Regions from separate parts of the Homo sapiens genome. Here region 2 is linked to region 1. Evidence: fine-mapped expression QTL. Tissue or cell type: whole blood. Region 1 holds a variant in brackets; the other region holds the start of a gene. All regions are shown on one strand. Distances are between the middles of the regions.

Region 1 (2,910 bases):
TAGGCACGTAATAGATAGCTAAGTGCTTTATATACAGTGTCTCATTTATTTCCTACATCATCTTTTTTAATCTTTAGAATAAGCCTGGCAGCTAAGAACTCTGGTTCTCCCCATTTTACAGATGAAGAAACTGAGGTTTATTGGTAGGAAGCCTCAGTTTCTCTAAGGTCACACAGCTGGTAAGTGATAGAGCCACATTCAGATCCTGGACTCTGATTATGGACCCGCTCCCTCTACACTCTGCAATGCTGCCTGTAGTATTCCCGCCTGCTTTGACATCCTAAATGTGGGGAAATGTGTTTGTGTCATGTTTTCTTAGCAGATAAGCAACCAAGGAAGGATGAAATTCAAAAGGACAAGGTCTGGATCTTTTTCTGTACTTAGCACTGTGCTTGGCATTTGGGATCAGCAGTGCAAACAGGTAGTAGCCAAAGGAGGATGAAACACTGGGTTAGAAAGAAAAAGTCCTGCTAGAACATTAAAAAAAAAAAAAATGATTTCACGGAGAACCCTGACTCATAATAGGAACTGGTTTTTTTAAAAAAGGAAGTAATAATATGTAGTGAGTATACTTTACTGCAGTCAACTATATATATTCAAAGAGCATAAAATATGAAGCCAGTGAGTGAGTGATCCTTTTATTAATTAAAAAAGAAGTTGAGTTGGGCGCGGTGGCTCATGCCTGTAATCCCAGCACTTTGGGAGGCCGAGTTGGGCAGATCACAAGGTCAGGAGTTCAAGATCAGCCTGGCCAACATAGTGAAACCCTATCTCTACTAAAAATAGAAAAATTAGCCAGGCGTGGTGGCACATGCCTGTAATCATAGTTACTCAGGAGGCTGAGGCAGGAGAATTGCTTGAACGCAGGAGGCGGAGGTTGCAGTGAGCTGAGATCGCACCACTGCACTCCAGCCTGGGGGACAGAGCAAGACTCTGTCTCAAAAAAAAAAAAAGAAGATGAATTAGTAGAGCATGAAGAATAATGAATGAGTTGCTAGGTAATTTGCCATTCCCTCTGCCTGGATGCCTTTTCCTCCAATTGCCAGTTAGTTTTAAGGCCACCCTTCTCTGAAATAACATAGTACTTTGTACTTGGGTCATGGTATTTATCACAGACTTCCTTTTATTATAGTTAATTCTGTACATGTTTAATCTTTCTTACTTGATTCTAAGCTCTTTAAGGACAGGGTCCACATCTTATCTTCATTTCCTTCTTCCAGCTCTTAACAATCTGTGATGTTAAGCATATTTGAAAATAGACATTGTTAGAGATTATGTTCTTTTAGTGAAAAATCGGCCAGGTGCTGTAATCCCAGCACTCTGGGAGGTTGAAACAGAAGGATTGCTTGAGCCCAGGAGTTTGAGATCAGCCTGGGTAACATGGTGAAACCCTGTCTCTACAAAAAATACAAAAATTAGCTGGGTGTGGTGATGCAGGTCTGTGGTCCCAGCTACTCTGGAGGCTGAGGTGGGATCACTTGAGCCTGGGAGGCCATGGCTGCAGTGAGCCATGATCACGCCTCTGCTCTGCAGCTTGAGTGATAGTGACAGAGCAAGACCCTGTCTCAAAAAAAAAAAAGAAAAAAATCAGTGAATGCCTTGAACCTAACACACTGCCTTTTATGTGGTAGGTACAGTGGGCTCACTGAAACATTCAACTTGTTCAACTCTATCCATTTGTCCAAAAACAAAAAGGAAATGAAAAATTCTAAATACAGTA[C/G]GAATATGCCCTCAATTCTACTTAATTAGTATATGTCTGGAATGAGTGTGACATGGAAGATTTGAATCTGCTCTTCTTTGCCTCTGCTCTCATGTGCCTGTGCTCATGTGTATCGTAGAGTGCTTAGAGTGATTCTAATGCTTAAAACAAATTTTCAATCTCTGTGGCCCCTAAACCAGCCAGCCGTTTCATCTGATGTGTAAGACAAGGCTCCACTGGATTCATTCATTGCCCACTGAAACAATGTATGATCCTGTGAGTGAAAGAGAGAAAGAAATCAATGGCTAGGGATTGAATGTCTTGTGGAATTTTATGACAAGAAGACATCTAGGGAAAACCATGGAAATGTCCAGTCTGAAGATCAAACAGTTCATAAAAGTGATTCAGAAGACACTAAGAGCAGGTGAAAGGGAAAAACAGAACTTTACAAAGCAAAGTTGCTTTCTTGGCTTGCTTTCTTCAGAGCTGCTTAGGACCAGACAGCTCTATGTGCCTGAGAGTTCCTGAAGGAATCTTAGCATTAAAATACAATTTACCATGAAATACTATGCAGCCATAAAAAAAGGATGAGTTCATGTCCTTTGCAGGGACATGGATAAAGCTGGAAACCACCATTCTCAGCAAACTAACACAAGAACAGAAAACCAAACACGACATGTTTTCACTCATAAATGGCAGTTGAACAATGAGAACACATGGGCACAGGGAGGGGACCATCACACAACAGCACCTCTCGGGGGTAGGGGGCTAGGAGAAGGGTAGCATTAGGAGAAATACCTAATGTAGATGACCAGTTGATGGGTGCAACAAACCACCATGGCACGTGTATAGCTATGTAAAAACCTGCATGTTCTGCACATGTACCCCAGAACTTAAAGTATAATTTTTTTTTAAAAAAGTACAATTCATAGGCTGGGCGCAGTGGCTCATGCCTGTAATCCCAGCACTTTGGGAGGCCAAGGTGGGCAGATCACTAGGTCAGGAGATCGAGACCATCCTGGCTAACATAGTGAAACCCCCGTCTCTACTAAAAATACAAAAAATTAGCCGGGCGTGGTGGTGGGCGCCTGTAGTTCCAGCTACCCAGGAATCTGAGGCAAGAGAATCACTTGGACCTGGGAGGTGGAGGTTGCAGTAAGCCTAGATCGTGCCACTGCACTCCAGCCTGAGCGACAGAGTGAGACTCCATC
Region 2 (2,910 bases), 62 kb before region 1:
CAGAGGTTACAGTGAGCCAAGATTCACCACTGCACTCCAGCCTGGGCAACATAGGAAGACTGTCTCAAAAAAAAAAAAAAAAAAATATATATATATATATATAATTCATATATTCATCTTTATGCCAACCCAGTGGTAAGATAATAATTTTTTAAAAAATTTTTAATGGAGAAAGGGTCCTTTGAAAACAAAAGTGCCTAGGACCCAAGAAAGTCATTGTCTGTGTGTGTGTGTGTGTGTGTGTGTGTGTGTGTGTGTGTGTAGCAGGGAAGGGAGAGGGTGCTTTCTTCTTCCAACATTGACAGCTCATGCTAGACTCCTAGGCACCTGCCTGGCCACCACCCCCTTTAAATGCCGCCCCCTCTCCCGGGGTACACCTGGCCTCCCTGAATGGGCCCACCTGCCCCGAGGCCTGGCACGAAGAAGCCAAACAAAAGAACAAAGATTCCTCAACAATCCCAGGGTCAGAAGAATCTTCTGTACCAGGCTTGGAAAATGCACCTGCGGACTATGACATACTTGGGCAAAGGGCATTGTGGGGCCAGGGAGGAGTTCAGGAGCTGTGCAGGAAGAAGGAGGGAGGGCAATGCTATGTTGTAGAAAGGGTGAGCTCATTAAACTTTACAATCCCCCTGATACTGACCCCATTTTACAGACGAAGAAGCATGGGCTCAGAGAGGTTGAGGAGCTTGCCCAAGCTCACAGCTGGGATTCAAACTTAGGCGTCTTTGGTCCGACACCCATGCCCCAGCTCCCTCGTCACAGATCCCTGGGATACCTGACTCAGCCATTGTAGGGCCGCGGGCGGGGCATAATGGACAGCTTCTAAGCTGACCACCCAATCCTCCCCAGTGGCTGTTCTCCATTCCTGCTTCCCAGAAACCCATCCTTCCCGGGCTGATCCTACAAAGGATCTTCTATAATAGGATCTTGGGGCCTCAATTTCCCTTTTGTGCGTGTGCTGGGGCAGGGATCTTCCTCTAGGAATGAGGAAGAGAGAGAGACAAGAGAAAAGCATGGCCTTTCTGCCCCACTGTGCTAAGCCCCCAGCCAGGGTCCTCCCGGAAGCCCAACTCCTGCCGCGCGCGGCCTGGCGTGCAGGAATGGAGCTCGGTCCCTTTAAATCCCGCCGAGGAACGCCTGAGGGCCGGGCCGCGCCATTCCCGGATCCGCCGGCTGGGAATCGCGGGTCCCCGCGCGTCCTGCAGCACTTCCCGCGCCGCGCCCCCAGCCCAGTGCGCCGGCTCTGTGCCGGGGTGCCCGGGCGGTCGGGAGAATGAGCCGCATCTACCACGACGGCGCGCTCCGGAACAAGGCGGTGCAGAGCGTCCGGCTGCCAGGGGCCTGGGACCCCGCCGCCCACCAGGGGTAGGCCTGGGCTCACGGCCTCGGGTCGGCCTCCCCTGCCCCGGCTCGAACCCCGCAACAGGATCGGGTGGGGGGGTGGGATGCGGGTGGGGGAAAACTGGGGTTGCCAAAGCCGCCTCTCCGCCTTCAGTCCGCCCCTCCAGTCCGCCGCTCCCGGCGCCCCTGCCGCCGCGCCCGCCCAGCGACCCCATGACACAGATCGGCTTAAAGCTCCCCGCCTGTCCGCCTGCCCTCGAGAGAGGGTCCCGACCCCCAGACAGGTCTCCGAAGGCTGGGCTTCGCCTCACGCCGACCTCCGGCCCCACCCCACCCGCGTAACTATAAACTCCAGCTACTTGCCGCGCTGCTTTTGCACAGACTCATGCCCTGCCCCAGAAGGGACAGTGGCCGTGCTGTGGCGGGAACAGCGGGCGGGCTGGTCCAGAGCAGGGCCTGCCTGGGTGAGGAGGATTTGGAGGGCCAGGCCCTGTCGTCACAGGGTTATGAGGCCGAAGGGACCATTCCATTTACAACTGCGCTGAAGAATTGTGCTAAGTGAAATAAGCCAGATACAGAAAGACAAATACTGTGTGATCTCGTATATGGAACCTATAAAAGCGTTGAACCATAGAAACGGCAGAACAGACCAGGCGCTGTGGTTCACGCCTGTAATCCCAGCACTTTGGGAGGCCGAGGCGGGTGGATCACTTGAGGTTAGGAGTTTGAGACCAGCCTAATGGTGAAACCCTGTCTGTACTAAAAATACAAAAATTAGTCGGGCGTGGTGGCAGATACCTGTAATCCCAGCTATTTGGGAGGCTGAGGCATGAGAATCGCTTGAACCTGGGAGGTGGAGGTTGCAGTGAGCCGAGATTGTGCCACTGCACTCCATCCTGGGCGATGGAGCAAGACTGTGTCAAAAGAAAAGAAACAGTAGAACAGTGAACAGTGATTGCCAGGGGATAGTGGATGGGGATGGGGTAATGATCAAAGGTACAAACTTTCAGTTATAGAATAAACAATTTCTGGGGACCTAATGTACAGCATGGGGTCTGGTGGGTGTGTTCATTAATCTGTGGTAATCATTACATAGTGTGTACTTAAATCATCACGTTGTGCACCTTGAATATATACAGTCTTTTGTCAGTTAAATATTTAGAAAAATAATTGTGGGGGGTGGGGAAGAATTGGATAGAGACCAGCTAGGTAGAGTTTTCACTTCCCACTCCCATCCCTATTCCACTGTCATCTTCAGCTGTCCCCATGCTTCTCCATTTCTGTGGATGCAAAAAAGGAAGCCTCCACGTTCTGCTTTTATGAAAACCAGAGTCGAGAAGCCAGGGGTCCACTTCCCCTCAGTGAAGGACCGTGTGATCTTGGACTAGTCTCAGACTTCTGAGTTTTGGTTTCTTCACCTCTCAGTAATAACCATTTCCTCGGGTTAATGACCACCTGGATATGAATGAGAAAAGGAATATGAGAGTGTTTAAAAACAGGTGGAAAGGGAAAATAGTTTATTGCAGCTTAGATACCTACCCTCACATTTGGACCAATAAAAAAGTA

What was found. PIP is the estimated chance that this variant, and not a neighbour inherited with it, causes the effect. A credible set is the group of variants that fine-mapping cannot tell apart.
Region 2: it holds the start of ARPIN, and the variant in region 1 is the best candidate, but not a certain one, in a credible set for the expression of ARPIN in whole blood (TOPMed, PIP 0.56).

Annotation. Positions count from the first base shown.
Region 1 is chr15:89,849,387-89,852,296 of GRCh38, reverse strand. The region is part of intron 8 of ARPIN-AP3S2 (ARPIN-AP3S2 readthrough); the gene reads left to right. The region is part of intron 4 of AP3S2 (adaptor related protein complex 3 subunit sigma 2); the gene reads left to right. MIR5094 (microRNA 5094) reads left to right here and starts at 1,576; the gene lies at 1,576-1,660. RefSeq lists enhancers at 531-580, 2,892-2,910. The variant C/G (reference allele first, on the strand shown) is at 1,721.
Region 2 is chr15:89,911,202-89,914,111 of GRCh38, reverse strand. It overlaps ARPIN (actin related protein 2/3 complex inhibitor), which reads left to right and starts at 1,160. Exons shown (of 6, transcript NM_182616.4): 1 at 1,160-1,368. The coding sequence starts at 1,277. It overlaps ARPIN-AP3S2 (ARPIN-AP3S2 readthrough), which reads left to right and starts at 1,160. Exons shown (of 10, transcript NM_001199058.2): 1 at 1,160-1,368. The coding sequence starts at 1,277.